Regions from separate parts of the Homo sapiens genome. Here all the other regions are linked to region 1. The links come from fine-mapping of genetic effects on gene expression. A gene starts in region 1. Each other region holds a variant in brackets. All regions are shown on one strand. Distances are between the middles of the regions.

Region 1 (8,097 bases):
AGGGAATCAATGTAAGTTCCAGTTTCTGTAAAAACAATAAAGCAAAAAGGGATCCTTGAATTATTGTCTAATTTATCAAAGTATAATTAAAATTCTATTGTCTGACTCATCCCCCTTTATAGTCCAAAGACAGTTCCGGTTGTGCATTATTATTCATTGCAATAGGATGATTGCTTTCCTAAAACATATTAACACAAAGTAATGTATAAGTGGGTTTGTAATGTGCCTAAAATAATAGGTATTATCATTACAGATCTTCCTTGGTTTTACTTTTCTATCAGTAATGTGGAAAGCAAAATTTGAAAATATTTATAAACTAGAGAAGCTCAGATATTTTGAATTGAATAGGGTGACCAACTCTCCTGGTTTGCCCGAGACTGGAAGATTCTTAGAACTTTTAGTTTTAAAGACAGGACAATTTCAAGCAATTTTAGGATTAGTACAATCTCTGGCAAATGGGTTCAAGTTACTTACCCTGAGCCAGAATGTAATCTTGTTGAAATAAAGACAGGACTGTTTTGTGAAAAGGAACTTTTTGAAAACCTTGTTGCTGCTCTTTCAGGATTTTCCAAATTTGTCCTCTTCACCTCCCTGACCCCTAAGTCAAGCAAGTTGATGTTAAAGACACTCTTCTCTCTCTGGATACAGAATAGGACAGTAGCAACACTTATAAGTTCTGCAGAAAGTAATGAGGGGTAGGGGCCTCAGCTCTACATCACCTAGTCTGGATATGAAGCCAGTCTTTGCCATTGATTAGGTGAATGATTCTGTGACTCCATTTTCTCTAATATTAATAGAATATTAATAATATTGAACTTATAGGGTTGTATGAACAATACCTATCATGCATTAAGAAGTCAAGGAAGTTAGTTAATTTTTTGTGATCTTGATTATGATTAGCAACTTAGAACAGACCGTCATGTCTGCCAGTAATAGCTTTAAAATCTAGATTCCTAGGAGGACTTGTTACTTTTAGCAATCTTCTGCCAGAGGAAGCTTCTGTCTCCTGAAAGGCTCAGCTATATATTTGTTTGTTTATTTTTTCCCATTCAAGATATACACATGAAATGACAGAAGAAAATTTCAAAACTTAAGATTCTTCCAGGAAATACAGTGTCAGTGGAATGGATAAGTGGATAAAATTAGCACAGTTCTTTTGGGCTAATTATGTTTTTAGTGAAGGATGACAAATTCTACAGATTTATTTTTGAATAGCCAGTATTATAATAAAGCTACTTTATTGGAATAGCTCATTAAATGATTCTGAGAATCCATTAAGGAAGGCATGTCAGTTTTTATTCTCAATTATGAGGATTGGGTGCAAGACTAAAGAGCATGTTGGAGTTCAACAGGCCACAGTTTGGTCTGGCTACCAGTAGAACTTTGCTTCTATTAAAGTTATGAAAAAGGAAGACTGCTGAAAAACAGGTTGTGAGTTGTTTCTGGAATTCTAGAGTATGAAGTCAGTTCCTTCAAAATTGCATTGTTCTAACTGTTAGCATCTAATGTCAAAGCTTCATCTCAGATAGGCAGTGGGGCAGGGCTCAGATCAAGCCATTCTCCTCTACTCTATCCCTGAAGGAATCTGAGGTAGACACTTCCTAATTAGCAGAAAGTAGACTTGTGCCTGATCTTTGATCTTGTAATTTAGCCAATTAAGTTTACTACATGACACTTAGTAAAGATAATTTGTCTGTTAAGACGTAATTGCAGGACTTTGATTTTTCACATAGGGTTTATTTCCAGCATTTACTAAGTACAACGCAGAAGATGTTTAAGAAAATATTGGAAACACTCAAAAGGTTGAGATGGAAACCTGGTCGCTCAAGATCTAAACAGCTGGTCAAAAGCATCATTGAAAAACATACTTAAAATATTTATTTTTACTTTAAAAATGAAAGAGAAAAGGCTAGAATCCTGGATTTTGCATATGAAATTATAAAGCATTTAAGGGGAAGTCAATTTAAAAAAATAACACAGCCTGAGATAACTAAATATATTCTATTCCTTGAACACCTTTTAAAGTCAATTGTAAAAGTCATGTCTTTTCAGCTTTTTACTCTATTTGTGTTTGTTATAACAGATTCCTGACTCTCAATATCAGATTCATCCTGGAACAGATTTTATATCATGAGATGTAAATTTAAAATGAAAATGTAATGTGTATACATCCTATAGTTGCATTTAGATATGCCAGCTTAAATACTGATAAGTATTTACATAATTTAGTGTAAAAAAACTCACTTTTTTCCAAAATGCCTAAATATTTTTGGTTTTTTTATTTTTGGGGAAAGTGTTTTAGTTTTTATTTTCCTTTGTACATGTAGACAGACTTTCTACAAATGAGGAAGAACCTTCTCTCTTTGTGCTGCTCAAAAACATTAAGTAACCCCATTTAAACCCTAAATAAACTCTAAAACATCAATGAAAAACGTATTTAAAATATTTGTTTTCACTTTAAAAATGAACGAGATGGCTGGGCACAGTGGCTAATGCCTATAATCCCAGCATTTTTGGAGGCCAAGGCGGGCAGATCACGAGATCAAGAGATCGAGAACATCCTGGCCAACATGGTGAACCCCGTCTCTACTAAAAATACAAAAACTAGCCGGCGTGGTGGCGGGTGCCTGTAGTCCCAGCTACTCCGGAGGCTGAGGCAGGAGAATCACTTGAATCCAGGAGGCGGAGGTTGCAGGGAGCTGAGATTGCGCCACTGCACTTCAGCCTGGGTGACCAGAGCAAAACTCCGTCTCAAAAACAAACACACAAACAAACAAAAAAAAAACAAAGAGAAAATCCTGGAATTCTGAACCCAGCTTAGCAGTTGTCTAATTATGTCCTCTATACATTGTATCTGGTATATTTTTAGACATAAACTCATGGCTTCATGAACCCCAATAATAGATCTATAGGAAAAAGTCATTTTGTATTCAACATTTTCCCATGGAAATAAAGAATTCCCACAGGTTAAATAAGAATTTGGCCTTTTGCCCAGAAGAAGGAAATTTTCATGGAAGCTTTTTTAGAATACAGTGAGTTATACAAAGTCACAGTACTTCTGCTTGGTTTACTTTTAATTAAAACAACAGTAATTCAGAGCTATTATTATTTTCAATATTTGTAAGTTGCTCATTTCTTCATTGCAAAAGAAAATGTTTTGAGAATGATCCATTTTATATATCACATTTAGAAATAAATGCACTTCTGAAAGTCTGTGTTGGAAAGCAGAAAAATGAAGTGTCTTGTGTAATCTGCATTAAGAGAATTACTAGATCATAATCTACATAAAAGAATATTTAGGACTATATATTTTGTCATTTAGTCCTCTAATTAAAAACAAGGACACTTTAAATGAACAAGCTTGTTAAGATACCTTGACCTCCCTCCCTCCTTTCCTCCCTTCCTCTGTCTCTAGCTTAAATACAAAAAGTTGTGTATTCAAAAGCAACAGTGTGCAAGTTATTTTGATACTATTCTTTGCTAAGTTTAGAATTGCATTGCAATTCAATTTTATTTTCTGTCCACTTTGTTTTAGTGTTAAGGAATAACCAAATAGAGCATTGAGGATTATAATATTGAGTGCCCAAGAATAGTAATCAAAAATCTGCCAATAAAGATGCTATAAAATTGGATGAGTTCGTAATGTCTTAAGCAAATATTAGGGATTTAGGTACGTATTAGGCAGATATTTGGGGATTCTAAACATGTGTTCCCATGATGGGAGTGTAACACTTGGATAGAAAGGAAGTTACCTAATTGTGATCATTTTGGGGAATATTGAGTGGGCAGGGATGAGGGTGGGAGTGGGTAGAGGTGGGGGTGACTGCAGTATAGTGTACAATTCACTGCAGCCTGCGTGGTCTCCCTCGCTCCTTCACGATTTTCCCTCTTCTTCAAAGTTTGTGTCAGGATGTCTTCCTGGCCATTCAAGTGGAAAGATACATTCCTAACAGCTTGGTTGTGAGGAAAGTAATATTTTTAAAGGTATGATTCAGTTTCAAGATGAAATTTTTGGAGCTCGGGAATGATTTTTAACCCCCACCCTCTCCCCGCCAAATTCAGCAAATGGAAGAAGCAAGGCCCATCCGAGAACTATTCCCAGGCACCAGCTCAAGGCGGAGGGCTCATGGGGAAGCTGAGTGACCTGCTAGGGCCCAAATCCGTTTTTGGCCTTTGCCCTAAAACAGTTCCCCGATGAGAGTTTGGAAGGGGCAGAAAGGAAAGTAACTATCTGGAGCAGGCGAAGAGTAGCAACGCCTCGGGTGCTAAAATCGGAAACCCCACCCCCTACCCCACAACCCTTTCCCAAAGGTAGTAGGCTGAAAGGGGGAATTCCTCGCGGGCGCCGACTCGCTCGCATCTCCTGAGAGGCAAGTTTCTTCGCAAGCGTTAGCCACCTGTGTGAGGCGCTCTGGGTGGGAAAGGTGGCGTGGGAGAAGCGACAGCTCGGCCACACCGCTCGGGAGCTTTCCTTAGTGAGGCCGGCCGTCAAAATACCTCCAGAACTCAGAGCTTTGATGATGCAGAGTCCCCTATGCCTCGTACGTCGCTAGGATCGTAGCTCAACATTCTCCAGGCTGGTCTGCTCTGGAGTCAGCTGAGGCCTCCCGAGTTTGCCCGGGGTCCTCCCTGTCCCCTCCCTCCCACCTCCCCACCCCCGAAGTAGCGCTCCCGCCTCGCTCCACCCGCACACCCCCGGCGCGCCTCGGAGGCTTATCAGGCTCCCCGCACGCCCCGCAAGCTTCCTTGGGCGCCCGGCGCGAGGGACTCTGAGAGCCCAGCCGCTGCCTCGGAGCCCCCATTCACGTCCCCTCCTCCCGCTCCCCCGCCACCGCGCCTCCGACTCTTCTCCCCCGCGCCGCGGCGCCCACCGCGTCTCAGGTTTAATCCCGGGTTGGACCTGCTGGTTTGCTCTCCCCGCTCTGAGCCTCACAGCCAGCCCAGAGAAGTGGAATCTGCACTGAAACTCTGGGTGGCTGGAGCCGGCGGACTGGGCATGCTCAGAAGCCAGGGCTGGCTTTGGTCTCAAGTAGGAAGCTTTGGCACTCGGGAGGCAGCGGCGACTTTGGGGAAAGTTGATCGGAGAGGGGAGGAAGCCTCAAGACGCGGAGCAGCGGCAGGAAGGAGCCCCCGGCAGCCCGGAGGAGCATGGGCACCTTGCGGGATTTACAGTACGCGCTCCAGGAGAAGATCGAGGAGCTGAGGCAGCGGGATGCTCTCATCGACGAGCTGGAGCTGGAGTTGGATCAGAAGGACGAACTGATCCAGAAGCTGCAGAACGAGCTGGACAAGTACCGCTCGGTGATCCGACCAGCCACCCAGCAGGCGCAGAAGCAGAGCGCGAGCACCTTGCAGGGCGAGCCGCGCACCAAGCGGCAGGCGATCTCCGCCGAGCCCACCGCCTTCGACATCCAGGATCTCAGCCATGTGACCCTGCCCTTCTACCCCAAGAGCCCACAGTAAGCAGGGGTGACGCGCCGGGTCCATGTGGCGCCCTGGCGATGGGGAGCTGCGGGTCTCTGTATTGTCTGTCGGCCCCCGCCCCTCCCGCTTGCCATGTCTGTCCTCATCCTCAGAAATGTTTCATTTTAACGGGCACTTCTTGCGGGGCTGTGCACGTTTCTCAGAGCCAGACTCACTGCACATACGTTGCCTTCGTGTCTTTGTCAGATGTCAAGGTATTATTTTTAAATATACATATACATTCGTATAAGCCACCTAGTGTACGTAGAGTTTGAACACGTCCCAGGTGTGTGTCCGACCGTGTGTGTGAGTGTGAGAGAAGAAATAAAAAGCCCCCGTCTCCCAAAAGCCCTGGCAAACCAGCCCAGCTGGAAAATCCTAAATGCAGGCTCATCAGACTTGAAATGAAATGCGTCTGATCACCCATACTTTCTATGCTTTTGTGGCTCTCCCGGATTTCTCTACCTGCTGGCGCTTCACGCTGGTACCCTTCAAACCTGACGTTCTTGTCATCATCAAAGTGTGAAACATAAGCAAATAGGCATAGAAAAAGGAAGAATTTTTGATTTCCTGAATTGGATGACATTTACAATCCATAAATGGAAGACTAGTCTGTTGATTTTGAAGAAATATTTTTTCATAACATATGAGGGAGAAGATTGCTTATTTTACTTAAGAAACGTGCATAATGTTACTAATGGAGCATCTCCATCTCCCAAGAGGTGGTTGCTTGTTTCCAGGGTCAGATACAGATAAGCACACTTATCTTATTTAAAACGTGGACCCATTGTTTGCCTTACTCTTGGCTTCTAATGCAACCACTCTGGCATTGTTCTAGCCTTTTAGGGAACTGTGCAATTCTGATGTTAGTGGGCTTCATAACTTGGATGGGAAAAATTTAATGAAACTTGTTATACAACACTCAACTCAGAGTTCATATGGAGAGTAAAGCGACAGGAACATGAGGTTAACAGAATGTGGGAGAGCACCCAAAAGAACGGCATTTTAAATTAATAGATAATAACGTAATTGATAAAACCAAGGATATTGCTGCTTACTCTACTACTAACGAAATCACATTGGCTGGATGGCACGTGTTACGTAATAATGCAAGGTCCATCGAAACCCTTCACTTCATAAATACAACAAGTTAATATAAGGAGAAAGTAAATATTTGATTATCTCTATTTGTATTTATTGGATGTTTTTTGGGGAGAATCACAGCATGTACCAATTACTACTTTTGAAAACTTAGAGTTATACCTATACATGTTGATTCCCATGGAACATTTGCTGTTCATGCAGGCTTAGTTTAGGGAGGAGTTTGTATTCTGCGAGGGAGTTGGAAAGAGACAATAAGGATAAACATTTCTGAGATTCTGACCTTACCAAATTGCCCTAATAGTTCAGCAGACTTAGATCTGCCTTAGAAACCTGAGTGATCTGAATAAACTTCAACTTTCTCTGGTAAATTAATTTGCAATCCTGACATGCCTGACTGTTTTAGCTAACGAGGTACATGACCATCTCTCCTGGGCCAAGTTTTGCATAATGAAAAAATAACTCAAAGACAGCTCTCTGCATCTTTAAACATTTCATAGGATCTCATTTTTGTATCCGCAGGACTTTTGAGTGACACAGAGCAAACTCTGCTTTTACAAAAAGACCACTTTAATAGGTTTCATAGTGAAGCATGTTGAAGCCAGCTGATAACTCCAGTTACACATTCCATCAGAGATTTACAAGATTCTAGGCAGTAGGGAATGAGCTATACAATGTGATAAGTTTAAAAGCCTCTTTGTACATGACTTGTAGAATATCTAGATTGAAAAACAAACAAACGAAAAAGGTCCAGAGTGGAAAATAAAGCTGGTGTGGCAAATAATTTACAGCATCCCATTATAATAACATTTTATCTATCATTATAATAACATTTTATCTATCAAACAACACTGTGTGTCCTGATACTGATTTCTTACTAATAACTTGTATTTTAAAGGACTCAGCTCTTAAGGTATTGCCATGATGCTTTGGGTGACTCTGAAGTATTTTATTGAGGAAAATGATAGAATGCCTTCCAAGCTTAAATAATTTTGGAAAAACATCTGTTCTTTTTTCACACTTACATAAAGAAAACTAGAAAAAAATTGGCTTGAGTAGTAGAAAGTGTACCTTTCTTAGGGAAAAAAGAAGTACATTGTATGCAAAATGAATAAATCTTATGTTGTTTGAATGGTTGTACAAGGTAGCTCCACAAAGAGTTAAGAAAACCTGCCAAACCAAAGAAGACTTGTTTGCCTTTCAATGTATTTCACTATGAATAATTTGATTACACGGACTTACTGGCAACAAGTGTTTGTGTCTTTGTATTTCATCTTTACTACATCTTAAATGTAGCCATCTTTCTTAAACATACATATAGATTATTGTGAGTTTCCAGTTAAAATGAAACTATCTAAATAGACACATTAATTTCCAGTTTACGTTCATGCTAGTTTTTGATTCTCTTTTTTTTAGATGTAGGTAACTGCCCCGCTAATGTTCTGTTCATTTATCTGATATATGCAAATATATCTGTTTAGTTTTTACTTACTAAGGTTGCCTTCTGAGGATTATAATTTTTTTTAGTTCTGG
Region 2 (8,097 bases), 80 kb after region 1:
TCTGATCCTTGAATATATCAAGGTCATTCCAAACTCTACACCTTTGTCCTTGTTTTTACTTCTACTTAGAATGCTTTTCCTCGTCATCACTGCAATAGAGAAGACAATGGTTGGATCTCATTGTCATATAATCTTTATTTCAGAGAGGCCTTCCTGACCACTTAATCTGAACTAGCCTTCCCTACACCTTGAAATAACCCTACTGTTATTTACATATTGCTAGCCTACTGTATGGTAACCATAATGTAGAATATCCTTTTATTAGCTTAAGAAAAACTAATGGGGGCCTATTTATTAACAGTGAATAGTGCTGGCTCCCTTATTTGAGAAGTAGGTATATGTTTTCCTATACTCTAAAATTGCCCATTTTTACCTAAGATTGTGTAGAAAGATAATTTCTGTCAAGTATTTTTTCTTTACATTCAGAAATTTTCTCTGTAATAAGTAAATGGGGAAATGGATTTTCCAATTTATTTTTCTAAAATTGAACATTTGAAAGAACTATTGCTAATCCTGGCATTAAATTATCTGGGGATATTATACCACCTCATGAAATTTTTAAGGAAAGAAAGGATTATCATGTTGGTTTCAGAATTTATAAATTAAGTTACACTAAATTCTTAGGGTGTTAGAAAAATACTCTATATCCAGTATTGTGCTGGAGCCAACTTGCACTGGCTCATGTAAGATCTGCTTGTTAATTTCCAGGAACTTTGCAAACAGGTTGATTTTGCATGAAAGCTTGAAATTGGCCATGGTGGGAGTATTTACACCATGGAAATTGGCAAACGCTACACACCATGGCTTCCTCCGCTTTTCTCCACCCAAGCCAGACAGCCAGAATACCAGCATATCATTATATATAGCTAATATTTCAGAGGCTGACAATTCAATGATGACAAAGGAATAGGGATAGCTCAAATGAGTCAAGTCGCTTTTATGGGTGTTTAGATTTAAAAAGCCACACATTTTGGGCATGAAAGAAAAAGATTTTTAAAAATAAATAATTTGTACACAAAGGCAGATAGTAAAGATTAAAAAAAATCATGATCTTTGTGGTTGCTTCTTATACCTCCCAAGTCAGGCTGCTGAATTATTTCAAAATATTGTTAAAATATATACTCTGGGTTGAGCAGATGGCTACCTTCTGGTACTTGTGATATCGGCTTTCCCCAACTCCCATACTAATAACACAACTCAACTCACTGATTTTATATGCATTATATCTTAGTTACAGTGAGTGTCTTAGACCATTTCTTTGGGGAAAGAAAGGGATTCAAAGAAGAATTAGATGGAGGCCCTGATTAATTATAGTCTATAATGTTGGAGAAAGTAAAGACTAATGAGAGTTGACCTAAGGTTTTCAGTCCTCAATAGGAAAGGACTTAAAGGAAAATTACATGAAAAGGCAGGGCTTTGAGTATTATTCTCTGACAAGACCATCTTTGGGGTTGTACTACACAGAGGCACAAGGTATCTATCTTGCTGCGAGAGCAGAGACAAATTGTGACAATTCAGAAATAATGCTATTTGGCAATATCTGTATGAAGGTATAAATAGTAAGATGTGGTCCTATATTGATTAGTTTCTTTTGAAGTGACACAACAGCCTATATGGAAGCCTCCAGTTTGTTTCTTCAGAGACCTGAAATTAAATGTCCTCCATCCAAAATAAAATTTGAGAAACAAAAACATCCTGAAATCCCGTCCTTCCCATCCCACACTCTACATTCAGTGATAAACAGTTGGAAAGTTTGGATAATTCTAAGGAATTGTGTTAGGGCTCATTGTTTAATCTTTTGCAATATCTTCATCAAACAGATTAATAATCTTATTTATGAGAGGGGAGAAAGCGACTTCAATCATGTTTGGATGGCGCTAATTATAATTATGTTCTTGGAAGAGGGCTTCATTTTTAATCTTGCTGAATTTCTAGGACTTAAATCTTTATAGGGTACTATTAATACTTCCTAAAGGATAATGTGTCATCTGTATGTAGCTGAACAAGTTGTGGTTCTTGATTAGTTTTTATTGTACAAGAAACTATGAACCCATCAAATGGCCTCACTCTCTGACAAAAAAAAAAAAAAAAGAAAAGAAATTTTTAGGAAAGAGAAAACGTAATGCAATTTGACCAAGATTAATTTTCTGAATGCCAAATAAGCCTAGATTCTTGGAAAATTAATCCCAGAATAGTAGATCTCAGGAGTCAATATGAAGGTGCCACTGCTATTCTTGAGACCAGGAGTGGTGAAGGTAATTATAAGGAGGGGTGAAGATAATACTGCAATTAATACTGCTACAACCTTTATCCCCTACCATTTACTGAAAGTAACATTTTATTCCTCGGTCTTCACATATAAACCTATTCAGCTGATATTTTTAAAATATCATTTTGTAGATGATAACATGGAAATTCAGAAAAGTAAGACAACCCACTCAAAATTTTTGAGGTGTCAGGGCTAGGATTGAAACCCAAATATATGTCTCTTCAAAACCTATGTTTTTGTTTTTGTTTTTTTTTTTTAACATTTTAGTAGGCACATACATTCTTACTCTAAAATCAATTTTGTATCCTGCATTTTCACTTAAAAATAATAGAAGAATTTCCTCCATGCCATTAACACTCCTCATAAACAAAATTTTAATGGCAGCATAACGTTCCACTCTAGGATTATTCTTCATAGTAATGAAATTTCAATTGTTTTTATTTTTATGTGTATCTTTGCACTACTTAAAACTGAATTATTACAAAACATAATGGTGAAGGCTAGGCTGGTTAGACTGAGGTCTGGATGAAAAGCCTCCCAGAAATGGGGAGGGAAGACTAACGCTTTAGTCAGTGTTCACTACCGCAGGTCACTCCCCTGGAAGCCACTTGCTAAGGAAATGAGGACTAAGGTCAGCTTGTATTTAATTTTTTAAAAATTAAGACTTTTAATATGACATTCCAAATGTGCTGCCTCCTCTCTGGATTGCTAAGTTCTTTGCTTTCATCTTATGTGGCTTCTGACTTCTCTGATAGTGCTCTGATTGTCCTCCTCCTGATAAAATATTTCTTAATATTTCTTCCACTTTGATTTTGCATTCTTAGAAAGTCATTTGGAACTTCTTATCCCAGCAAATAAATATCCCAATGTTTTAAGTTCTGCTAAAACTTTCTCGTTAACCACTGAATTCCAATTACAAAATTTATGAATATGTTTCCTACTGACTACCTGTATTGAATCCCATACCTAAAACATGTTGCACTTCAAACATCTTGTTCAATAGAGTTGTATCTGCCTGGTTACCTCAGTCTAAGCTGCTTGAAGAAAGAAATATTCTCTAAAAAGCATGGGACATGTGTAAAGAACTGTTGCATTTCTACCAGTTGTTTCAAATAGCTAAGTAGGAATCCAATTCTTTTTTAATCCAAAATATTACTTGAGCAGTATTATCTCCCACCATTTACTGAAGGTAACATTATATTCACCAGTCTTCACACATAAAGCTGTTAGGTTGGTATTTTTTTAAATACTATTTATAGATGACTGGCATCTTAGTAGACACTGGGCATAAAATAAAGAACAAATTTAAAATGATCCCTGCTTATGTGGAGCATTAAGTCTAGCAGAAGAGGCACATAAAAAATAAGTAAACATTTTTTTCTATAATTGTGTATAGTACAATACATCCCTGATATTCTTTTATAAATATAAACAGTAGTAATAGTATTTGTTCTGGAATGTTGAAATTTTATTCATGTTTATTCTTAAACTAAATTACAAACTTTAAAGTATGTATCCATTGGTTTTCTAGCAATCTTTGTGATTAAGAAAAAGTCTAAAGCAAAATGGACTTGTATGATTTTGTTGGTTGGTTGGTTGGTAGGTCACTTATTCATTAAATGATAGAATACTTAAAAAAAATTCTTAGTGCCTTTTTTTTTTTTTTTTT[G/T]TTTTGCTGCCATGGACATACTTTGTTCTCCAGTCTTCCAGAAAATTATTGGATTCCTAACAAGAAAATACATTTGTGGTGTGCCAGAGCACTCTATGGCGCTGCTAAACCTCACAAACTATGAAAGAGCTTGTCAGATGTGCCAGTAAATCTTCCCTCTCTTGCCATAGGTCCAAGGATCTTATAAAGGAAGCTATCCTTGACAATGACTTTATGAAGAACTTGGAGCTGTCGCAGATCCAGGAGATTGTGGATTGTATGTACCCGGTGGAGTATGGCAAGGACAGTTGCATCATCAAAGAAGGAGACGTGGGGTCACTGGTGTATGTCATGGAAGGTACGGTTTGTAACTCCAATCCTCTGACATTCAAATATTCTTTTTTCATCTTATCAGCTGCACACAGATGGCAATGCATTACATGGAAAATTCCATTTTTCCTTCTTTTATTGAGAAATTAGTTTGAGAAGAGTTGAAACACTACTTAGATAAAGTGGTTAACTAATTATGGGAAGTGTTTGTATTTAGAGTATTAATATGAGAATCCAGTATTTTTTCAGACATGGAAAAGTTAAAAATGTGAAAAAAGAAATATAGTTTATTACACTGAATATTCTTCATGCAGTCAGGTCACTGAGCAAACATACAAAGCTTCAGCAGAAGCTCAAGATCACTGGAAGTATTTTTGGCCGATAATTTAAGCATCTTCAACTCTCCCCTTAACTTTTAATATGTGACTAGTTTTCCTGCTATGAAGCTTCTGTAAAAAGAAAATGTTTTTCATGTGTATGACAGAGGCAGACAATAAAGGTTGAATGGAATATTACCTGCCTAATTAATAGGAATGATAGCTTGTTTCATACATCCTGTAAAGACTAATATAGAAAGTGTTTTGAAAAAAACTGAGGCACGCACTGTGTAATATGTTTTATGCCTAGCTAATTTTTCATAATACTTCTTTCTGACCTGAAATCTATACTGACATGCTTTTCTTTTGTGGGAAGAAAGTAGCTTGAGATAATGACTGAATCAGCTTGGAAGAAAGTGAGTGCAGAAATACCTATAATGTAAGATGGTGACACATGAAAACCAGTTTCTTAGGTGGTGATTAATGTTTTATCCAAAACATTTGTGTGATAGTGTCCTATAATTATCAAACTTACAGGTCATTCAGAGAAGTGGTGTATTTGGGCAAGTCACTTAATTTCTCTGTTTCACCTAACCAATTTGTAAAAAAAGAAGATATTCTTTCTTTCTGCCAGTGGTTTTCAACTGATGATGATTCTGTCTCCCAGGGGACATTTGGTGATATCTGGAGACATTTTTGGTTGTCACAAAGGGGGTGATGTTGGGGGGACTGCTGACTTCTAGTGGGTAAAGGCCAGGCATACTGCTCAAAAGGGTAGCTGCCCAGAACAAAGATTTATCTGGCCCAAAATGTCATTAGAGCCAACGTATGAAAAATCCTGCATTCTGCCTTCTTTACACGATTGGTATAAAATGAGATAATTTGTATAATGTTTAATGTAAAGTATAGAACACCACAACATAATAATAAGTATTATTTCTATTAAAATCTTGACAGTATATAAGAAATATTCTTTCTTCATTCAGCATGCACCTTTTATTTATTCTTTGTCATCTTTTTGGATATATGTTAGGCATTCAGTTTTTAAGTAGTAATTTCTATCATTTTTTTCCCTTATAGTTTTCACCTTCTATGTCAACAATATAAAATTCTTCCCAGGCCAAAAAATATAAATATTCATTTAGACTTTCTTCTGGTGACAAAACACAATAAACAAAAATACACATAATGTACACTTGGCAGAGAATTGCAAAGAAAAGAGATGAAATTATAGGACAAGGCTATATGTGGATAGTGAGCAGAAAGGATGGAAAAGTGGCAAAAATATATAGAGGTCAAGTATAGAATATAAAGATAGAGGCAATATCTTAAGAACTACTAACAATTAGAAACCACGTTTAAAGCACTTCTGAGATTATATCAATAGCTTCATATGATATTATTTTTCAGATATTATATTGGTCAGCACCTTTTAATAAAACAGCTATTGTATAAAGGAAAGTATACTTTTACTTCATCTGTTTTCCAGTGCTAATTATTGCTGTTTCATTCAAGAAACCACAATTTTGAACACCTGTGGATTCAATGTTCCTTCATCTTAAATATTTCTTACAAAAGTAGATTTCCAAACAACCATGGACATTATTTCTAAAATTTATTCATGTTGTCCCTTCTTACTAAGCCTAACTGAAAGTCTTCTAGCTATATTGGAAGAAGCTTGGGAATAATAGTTAATATTTGTTAATGTTTAGAAAATGCCCAACACATAGAACATGCTTTTTCTAAATATTGTTTACATATAAAATTTATTTAAACCTCAAACAATACTGTGAGGTAAAGGCTAATATTTATTATTCCATTTTGTAGATGAGGAGACTGAAGCTTAATGTGGTTAAGTAATTTGCCCAGGTCTCCCAACTAGTTTATAGTAGAGTCAGGGTTTATACCCAGGCTATTTGGATTCAGAGCTCAAACTGTTAACTATGGGGCTATGTATTAGTCAGGACTCTCCAGAAAAGCAGGACAAATAGGATGTGTGTGTCTATATACAGTGAGAAGGAGATTTATTTTAAGGAATTTGTTTATGTGATTGTGGAGGCTGGCAAGTCCAAAATCTACAGGGTAAGGCCCATTGATCAGAGATGCTGCAATTCGAGTCTGAAAGCCGTCTGCTGACAGAATTTCCTCTTTCTAGGGGAAAGATGGGACTTTTTTCTATTTGACTGACTGGATGAGGCTCGCCCACATTATTGGAGGGTAATCAGCTTTACTCAATGTCTATTCGTTTAGGTGTTACTAAAATATCTTCACCAAAACGTCTACAGTAGAATAATTTTTGAGCAGCTTTCTGGTATTGTGACCTATCCAAGTTGACATGTAAAATTAAACATCACAAGTCAATCGACCCCTTGTCACCTTGGCACCCATACATATCTTCTTAAACCATATTTAATTTTCAAATAAAGACAAGAACAAGGTCATACTTCCACCTAACATGATTCAACAACCCTGTGTACAGCTGCAAATTTACTAACCCTTTCCCCAAAAGAAGACACAAAGTTCTTGGGTGATGTTTACTCACCTCATTGATATCCCGTAGCTTAAATACTATGATGTGAAGTTAACAATACTTAAATACTATGATATAAAGTCAATACATCTTATGCTGCATGATAAGGAGATAAGAGAAGGAAGCAAACGAAGTTATTTGATGCAAGCACACACACACACACAAACACACACACCCGAATGTAACAAAATAAGAAAGAAATACTCATGATAGGTGATATTTCTTCCCCAGGTAAGTATACTAATATTTTCCCCATTGCTTCACGATAATTTTAATAAATTTTCTTTATCTTCCTTTTATTGCTAGATTGACTAAACAGCACGTTATCTTAATTATCCTTTTAAAAACAGGGTTCTAAATAATATATCAATATTCAGAGTCACAGCTTTTGCAATGATGTTGACTGCCTTCAGAGTCACAGCTTTTGCAATGTTGTTGATTGCCTTCAATTAAACTCAATAAAATGACTACAATTTTATAACCTGATGCCAATCTTTCCCTAAATGGTAATTCTAGCCAGCTCAGTGTAACTTTAGCAGATCTTGTGCTAATAGCCTTATGTCAAAATAATTTAAAATTTAAAAAACGATCATTTAAATTTTAAAAAGTTTTAATTGAGGAAATGTTTCATTGTATCATTAGTTCAATCTTCTCAAAATTTAGGTAGCAATGTTCTTGCTATAGATGGATTCTTTGTTATCTGTGAACATTCATATTTATAAAGAGTATACCATGGTAATAATGAATGAATAGGCAGTAAAGGATCTTCCACAAGCTTGCTTACTATCAAGATATTCAGCAAAAGACCCAGGGAGTTTATGTGGAAAATCAGTCCAATTCTTCCTGTCTCTCTTTAGTGAAATTAAGTGGTCTTCATAAAATGCTTAACATGTGCCTTACATATTTTTTTTTGTTTGCACCCCGGGCAGTGTTCCAAGTGTTATTGCATACCTAAATGCCAGAGGTTCTTATGGTTTTAACAAAGAGAATACTCATATGGTAA
Region 3 (8,097 bases), 170 kb after region 1:
GGGTGAGAAATTCTCTAATGAGCACATACAGGATAAAAGACAGGAGGCTGGGAGAAGAGCCCAATAACCAAGCGCAAGTGTCAGAAGCCTGTAGAATGTGTCAAAGGGAGAAAATGCCAAAGATGAGAAAAGTTTATAAGTATGTTCAGAACAAGAAGATAGAAGGTGATTGGATGAGTCAACCAAAAGCCCCTCTAGGATAACAAGTCCTACTTTGTCTTCCCCCAACACATAACAGTTTCTCTATCAAAGGAAATAAATATTAGATTGGATAGGGTATAATACTAGTGAGAAGAAGCTGAAGCCCAAAGATATGAGGAAATTTTAAACCACTACATTGGTGCAGTAAATTCAATTCAGCAAACAGTTATTGTGCATCTGTAATACCCTGACATTTTCCTAGGTACCAGCAATGATGTCCATTTCGAGGTGAGTAAGATACAATCCCTGCCCTCAAGGCTCGCAGTCTAGGGGTAAAACAAACATTAGACAAGTTAGTTATGTAACACTGGGATAAATGCAATTGCTATGTTGATCTTTGTTACTTTATAGAGTTACAAAGAATGGGAGAGGAGCAGGAAGATTGTAATTGACCAGAGGTTGATATAATTTTTGAAAAGAAGCTCAATCCCCCAATTTTTAGATTAATTAGCTTGGTGGGATGATGCCAATCATGAGCAAAAATCTGGAATCAATTAGTGAAAATATAGTGAACACTAAGACAGGTTGCAGGTGATCACTGAGAATCATCTTGAGTTTACTAAGACAGATTATACCAAAGTGATTTAATTTCTCTCTTGGAAAAAAGTGAATTAGATTTGGAGGGAGGCTGGAGACCCGGTGTAGACATACTGGATTTCTGTGAATGTTTCACTAGGTCTTCAATGGCATGCTTGTGAATAATAAGAATTGATATGGTGCTAATACATTGAGATGGACTTGGAAATGCCCCTTAATTAGTAGATATCAGTTAGAAGGAAGGCTTTTTGGTGGGGGATTGTAAGCCCCTTAGCCTTAGTGTGACTGTGTTCATCCTTTCTTTCCTGACTTGGATGATGTATCAGTGAGAGAGCCCACAGGACACAGACAGCTGACTTAAGCAGGGAAATTTGAGGAGAGTTTATTAAAAGGACTATTTACATGTGGACATGTTTTAAAGGAACTGATAAAGAGTAGTGCAGAGTCTCAGGTCTGTTCACCACCACTGGCCTAATGGGAAAAGCTCAGTCCCTGGAATAGCTGTGAAGCCAGAGCAGTCAGCAGAAGGCTCTTGCCCTGGTCAGGGTGTAGGATCACCATTTCCTGGCATTGCTCTGGCGGACCTTATGTTTTTCCCTGCTGTGGTGTATGTGCAGGTGCCTACCTAGTTCCCCATGTTCTTCCTCCTCCCTGGACTCATCGTCTGTACAGAGACCTAAAGAAATTGTTTTCCCTTTTCTGGACATCAGCCATTTTTCTGTGTTGATTTGTTGCTTCTGAAGACCTTCATTAGATAGATCTTTCCTGATGTAATCCATCATGGCATGGGCAGTTTCATTCCCCATAGTGCTGGTGAGCATTTGGCAAGGTCTCTTTTCATATACCTGTGAACAAGGACTATGGGCCTGATGCCAAGACTTAAATGCACCTGGAAATGCTAATTAATTGGTAGATATCAGTAGATATACTCCTAGAGAAGCAGGGCTGGAAACGGAACAATTACATTTGCAGGAGAGTATTACTTGACTTCTTATATTGCCTTCTGCCATTTTCCTGGTTAATTTCTAAAGACTCTTCTTACTGCTTTGGTAAATAAATTATTCTTAGACCAATGATGCTCAGAGTGTGCAGTAATTATCCCTAACAAATGTAACAAACGAGTTTTGAATTTTGTTCTATTGTGTTGATGTTGTCATGTTTTGTTTCTTTTGCAAGCAATAGAATCTTTCTTGGCCCAATGTTCAAATAACCTTTTTCTTATTTGAGCACATATAAACACACAATCAATAAAATTTCCCAAGAAGGAACAACATAAATATTTTAAAAATATATCATAGATACTTTACATAAAATGTAATACCTATGGGACTATTTAAAACTTATTAGTTATTTGATTAGATTTTCATTTATTTATGTGGCAAATTGAAATTAAGGAAACTAAGCATTTGAATTGAGTGTAGGAATATTCCCTTTCTTCCTTTTTTTTTTTTTTTTTACCATTTATATTGTCAAGGTGAATCCAAGATAATGATTTGTTGCAGGTAGCCTGAAATCTCAATATCATTTCTGAGGTCACCCTCATGTCTAGGGGGATATGTAGAGTAGATCATATTTATTTATAGAACATTCAGTGGTTCTTTCTCACACACACACACTCTGCCTCCTCCTCCCAATTCCCCCTGCTGTGGAGTCTCTATTGCAAAGAATCCAAAGGCCCCGTTTTAATTGCTCTTTACCTCTAAATGCCTTAAGGGATCCCTAGAGGGATGAAACACAGTAAGGTTTTTGTTTTCTTTCCTAACTTTTAAACTTATGTATTTTCAAATTACTGGAAAAAAAGACTACATTTTAGCATGTTTGTAATGAAAACCTTCTTAACATAAAAAATTATCCTACTATCCTTTTAAAAGAGATTGATACCTTGTCATAATTTTTCCGTTTTATAGCTGTTTTATAGTCACTTACTGGAAAAAAATGTCTGTGAGCTCCTCAGCTGCTTGAGGTTACCTTATCATTTTTTTTTTTTCTACAACCGAGATTGTATCTTTTTAACTGCAAACTTCACAGTGGAAGCGTTTTCCTTTGTGAATACTGGGACTACATTCCTGAGCCTTTGGATATACCAATGCAGACTGCTGCCTTTCCTTCTCTAGAAAGTCAGCCAAGCATAACACCAAGAGTTGATTAGAATTTTACTGCCCCTGATTCACAGACCTTCGCTTTTCCTCTTCTCCCTAGCTTCCCTTTGCTTAGCAACAGGAATGTGGCAAGCACTGTACTGCCAACAGATTTCTCTTTTGCTCTCCTATTGAAAAGAACTTAAGGATATAAGACAGCCCATAAGACATCACACATTTTACTAAATTAGATTTTTTTTACTCTGAATATGAGAGGCTTCCTCTGGCCACAAGATTTTCACAATATTTCTAGTTGAAACTGACTTAATCATATAACAACATCTGGGTCCCTGTTATCTAGTGAAATTAGCAGAATGTCAGCAGCCAGCAAAGTGCCAATGCATCTTTCAACTACAACTCTGCCCCCTTTCCCCCAAACCCTGGCACTATTTTTATAAATTTAAGTAATCTAGGTCAGGAATTAAGGCCTTCCTTGCAGTAGTTAAAAGTAATTTAGAGATGTGCACACTATCTTCCTTACTCTGTTAATACTGAAGATGTTGTAAATTCAGTGTGTCAATTCAATACTTCTCTTCTTTGAGCAAGGTGTTGTGTTAGACACCAGGCATGTAGCAAGATGAATGAGATGCAGTCTCTGCCTTTGAGGAGTGGAACAGACATGTATATAATTTATTGATATAATCTTAAGCAGAATATATATATTAGGTTGCCAATATTTGACCTAAAAGTGTAACAACCTCATATGATACAACCTAGTAAAAAGTGTTCTCATTGTGCTAAGAGAACACTGAGACTGAAGACCTTAACTGTAACTGTTGGAATTTGAGAAGGCTTCATGGGAAGCATATCATTTTAGTAAGGCTTCATAATATGGGTGGAACTGGATTCCCCTTAAACCAACCTCCTTCTGTACTAGAGAGTAGGAAGCTTGATCAAAGAAATGAAGAGCAAAAGCTAGGAGTTATACTTAGATAATAGCAAACAATCCAGAATGGCTTGAGCAAATAATTCATAGGTGGGGCAAGGGAGGACAAATATGGCTGAGACAGTACATTGGTATCAGACTCCATTGTATTATTAGGCTATAGAGAAGCCTCAAAGGTTTTGAGGAAGGGAGCAGCAAATTCATAGCTATGCACCTACCATTCCACTGTCCTTGAGATTTGCACTTGCTGCTCCGCAAGATGGACTGACTTTCTCTGACCCAGAAAGTTAATAGACAAATTTGACATTATCTTATAACAGCCATTTTGAAACAAATATCAACATTTATAAACGAGTCCAAAGTGAGGTGGAAAAGGAACTAATAAAAAGTTGTTTTGATAGAAACTGAAGCTGAAAAGAAATGGGAGCAGAGGTTGCAAACCCACATGCCCACAGGATCCAGACAGCATAGATAGAGAGATAGCACTCCACAAACTCTGGCCCAAATCCAGCCCACCTCCTGTTTTTGTAAATGAAGTTTTA[T/C]TGGAACACAGGCCTATTTTTTTTCACATATTGTCTGTGACTACTTCCATGCTGCACTGCAATAGCAGAGTTTAGTATAGACACTGACAGTATGGCCAGGTAAGCCCAAAATGTTTACTTTCCAGCCCTTTGCAGAATGTTTCTAACCCCTGGCATTAAACAGCAACAGAAAAAAAAGAAAAAAAAAAAACAATGAGGTGATTTATCTATCATTTTTCAACTTTTCTGACAGATGTTGGTACAGGAAAATATTTCCAACAATGAAACAGTAGTAGAAAGAAACATGATGATAAATGTCAACTGGCAGAACCTTGGCCTCAGACTCAGGCATGAATAGGAGAATTGGGGACTGTGGCGAATTGGAGAGCTCTTGTTCACTGCTATTCAGCCCCTTATTGATACCCTGTGACCAAATCTTCCCAGTTTTCAGAAGAACATGTACCTTGGGAAAGGTATGTTATATCTTCCAGTTCTTAAACACTGGCAGCTAACAAAATGAAACATTTTTAAAACTTGGGGACCCAAAAGCAACATTTCTGTGGTCTGGATTTGTTTCATGACCATGCATTTGTGGATTCTGGATTTGGGACCAAGACATAATTCGAAAAGAGAAGGGAAAAGGTATGAGAAGGTAAATTGTACAAGAAGATGAATGGAGTAATAAATGTATGGTTCTCACGTGGCTGGTAAGACTGTGAAAGAGACAAGAATAGTAGTCAAGAAGATGAAAAAACCCCTGCTTCTTCCTATAGGTCAACTTTGTGTGTTAGAGCTCAATTAGTTTTTGGTGCACTGGGAAAATGATTCAAGTATACTGACAGTTTTTATTATTATGTTTATTGAGCCAATTTTCCCTCCATACTCATCATTTGTTACTCAAAAATGCAAGAGAAGAAAGGAATTAATTGTGCATCTGAAACTTAGATATCTATTTAAATCAGAAAATAAAGGAGATTAAAGAATTACATGAGCAAAACACATTTCTTGGTCCTTTTCATATGCATATGAGGAGAAGGAAATATTCAAGGAAAAAATTCAGAGTAAACATTACTTTCCATGAGATATTAAGTTTAAGTAAATATCCAGCAAAATTTACACCCTTAACAATTAAATATATAAAACAAAAATTGTTTGCCTTTTCAGCTAATTACCCTGAGGACAGGACGTTGTTTAACTTGTTTATTCCCAAATCCTCAGGGGCCAGCATAGTGCATCCCCATAGAAGGCACCTGCTAAATTTGTAGAATGAATGATACATCAATGAATGAGCAAATGGAGCCCCACCTATATCCCATATTGCTGTGTCTTTTCTTTCATTTCTGGCCTCTAAATTTGCTCTGATGGCGTTCTTTTCTCTCTCTTCTGTTTCTCTTGTCTTCCTCTCCCATTCTTTTAAAAACTAAATTGATTTTTTCCTACTTTTGGCCAAGTCATTTACTGATTTCCATTTTCTACCTGTGCATGAAGGTCACTTCAGCTTGGACTCTTTCTCAACTCTCTCATGTAATCTTCAGTTTGTGTCTGCCTGCTTACATTGCTATAACTTGAATTACTGTGTCTGTTAACAACAACAATAAAGGTAACGGCAAAGTGGTAGGGGAAATGTTAAACAACAATCGTAAAAGGGAGTAAATGAACCCTTAGGTAGAAAGTTAGAAGGACTGAATTTATCTGTGGCTGTTGAAAAACTAAACTACATACATTGTTAAGCTTTAAGGGTTGCTCTTGAAAATGTTCTCAGGCTGCCCAGGACAGTTATTGACCTATAGGGCACACTCAATACATATTAATTCTCTGCTCAATGTAGTATGACAAAGTCAGGATCAAATATTCATACATCCAGATCTTCCAGAGATAAGATGGATTGTAATATCTATGTTTCTTCTAGGTCTTGTTTCAAGTGCATATCAAAATATTGGTAATATTTGGGTTGGAAGAGAATAGTTTGCATATTATTATTAATGTTTTATTAAAAAAATCGCTCTTTTAGACCTGCAATTCAAAATGGTCTGTGCATTTGTAACCATGATATTATATTCAACTTCACATTTTCTCATCTAAGTACATTTGCAGTTGTCGAAAAGTCAGCATTAAATCAGGTTTGTACAATTATGGTATCTTATGGTTAAAATTAACAGAATCCATTTAGTTCATTCTCTTAATTTTTATGATGAGAAAACTCTGATCACAGAAATGGTCTCTATGGCAAACTTTATTGAACTGCATTTATATATTTAAAGAAGTGCTAACTGAAATAGTGCAATTTAAAGTTTCATATAAAAGTGCATGGAAAATTGTAAAATTTATTCTCTATTGCAACTACAGTATAACAAATTCTATGTCATGTAGATGGCTACATAGAAATTACAAAAAAAAACAACTAATGAACATTACAACTAAGGTAAAATGCTTTAATTACATTATATCAAATAAAATTTATTCTTCTTATAAAAAGCATCCCTCATATTCTAAAGATGTTGTAAATGTTAATTGGCCTGAGAAATTGGTGATTGAGTAATCAAGACCCCGGTCAGATTACAGACAAAATTAAGTACAACCGAAGGTGAAATTTTATCTGGCTCATGGAGATTAAAAGCAATATAAGGTTTAATGCAAATTTATCATTTATAAAATTTTTAAAAACATGATAAATTTTTTTAAGAGGCGAGGAAGACAGTTAATGCTGTATTAAAATAGCAGCCATGGTTAACTTACGTTTTAAAATCATTCTCTACAAAAAACTAGGGGCAAAAAAATTTTAGTTTAAAAAGTTGTAATATATAGTTTGAAAGAATAGCTTATAAGAAAATGTTAGTAATGGGGTCATCCCCATGGACCCAAATCACTGGACATTAAGCAACGCATATATTATAGAATTATCAACATTAGAAAATGCACTGAATATTAACTTGAAAAGTTTTTGACATACAGAACATGTGAGAACATGTGAATGCCATAGGAATTTTTAAAATATGTAGAAAATATAAATCTGGAAACTGTCATTTCTTATTTGCTGTTTATAAATGGCTGTATATGTTGTTCCTATTCTCTTGGCTATTTAAAGTAAATTAAATTTAATTGATATATTCTAATCAGACATATTTTAGGTGATATTTTGAATGCTAATAGTGTTAGACTCAGGTTTTGTAATTTTATTTGCAAAACAATTCAACTTTCCCTAGAAAGGAGACAGAACATAAATGAAAAAAATGACCATTTATTAAAATAATCGCAAGTAGCAGCATATTATAAATTGTTATGTTTAACAAAGGACACTATACAATTTTTCATTCAACAGTACTGATTGAGCATCTACTATGTGTGAGGCACTGTTCCAGTGTTTCTGCAGCCCAGTGAACATGACAAACACTACTATCATTGTGAAGTGTGCATTCTAATAGCCGGGCATATTTGTCATCTTTGTATTCCAGGTGACACATTTGTAATTATGAACTCTAAAATGTCATATTGTGCTTAAGTGCCTTTAAAAGCGTAAGTAATATGTTAGATGATGCTTCATAGCTTAGAACATATCCACATGCATTTATGTAATTCTTATCATCTAGGGTACTTTGTTTATTAGAGGAGAAAACTGAGACCCTGGAAGTCTTACTGACATCATGAGCCTACAGTTACTGAATGGAAAAGTGAGGCTTGTCCCTCTCATTGCAGGGTTGCTGTGGTTTAACTCCCCAACCTACCCTAAACAGCCTTTTGGCAAAAGACCAATTTATTCAGTATACCTTGGGAGAAGGCAGATATCTAAATTTATCTTGCTTTTGGCAAGAAAATG

Alleles and levels. Alleles are on the strand shown, and positions count from the first base shown. SD is a standard deviation of normalised expression in the study named. Not every link is listed here.
For the expression in prefrontal cortex of the gene that starts at base 5,045 in region 1, T is the low allele of the variant in region 2 and G is the other (moderate effect, 0.60 SD a copy in ROSMAP).

What was found. PIP is the estimated chance that this variant, and not a neighbour inherited with it, causes the effect.
Region 2: its variant is fine-mapped to the expression of PRKG1 in prefrontal cortex (ROSMAP, PIP 0.95).
Region 3: its variant is fine-mapped to the expression of PRKG1 in blood mononuclear cells (TOPMed, PIP 0.99).

Annotation. Positions count from the first base shown.
Region 1 is chr10:51,069,443-51,077,539 of GRCh38, forward strand. It overlaps PRKG1 (protein kinase cGMP-dependent 1), which reads left to right and starts at 5,045. Exons shown (of 18, transcript NM_006258.4): 1 at 5,045-5,459. The coding sequence starts at 5,149.
Region 2 is chr10:51,149,056-51,157,152 of GRCh38, forward strand. PRKG1 (protein kinase cGMP-dependent 1) reads left to right here. Exons shown (of 18, transcript NM_006258.4): 2 at 4,109-4,275. Among named protein-coding and RNA genes, the nearest start is that of PRKG1, 79 kb to the left of the region's middle. The variant G/T (reference allele first, on the strand shown) is at 3,939.
Region 3 is chr10:51,242,132-51,250,228 of GRCh38, forward strand. All of the region lies in intron 2 of PRKG1 (protein kinase cGMP-dependent 1), which reads left to right. Among named protein-coding and RNA genes, the nearest start is that of MIR605, 53 kb to the right of the region's middle. The variant T/C (reference allele first, on the strand shown) is at 4,305.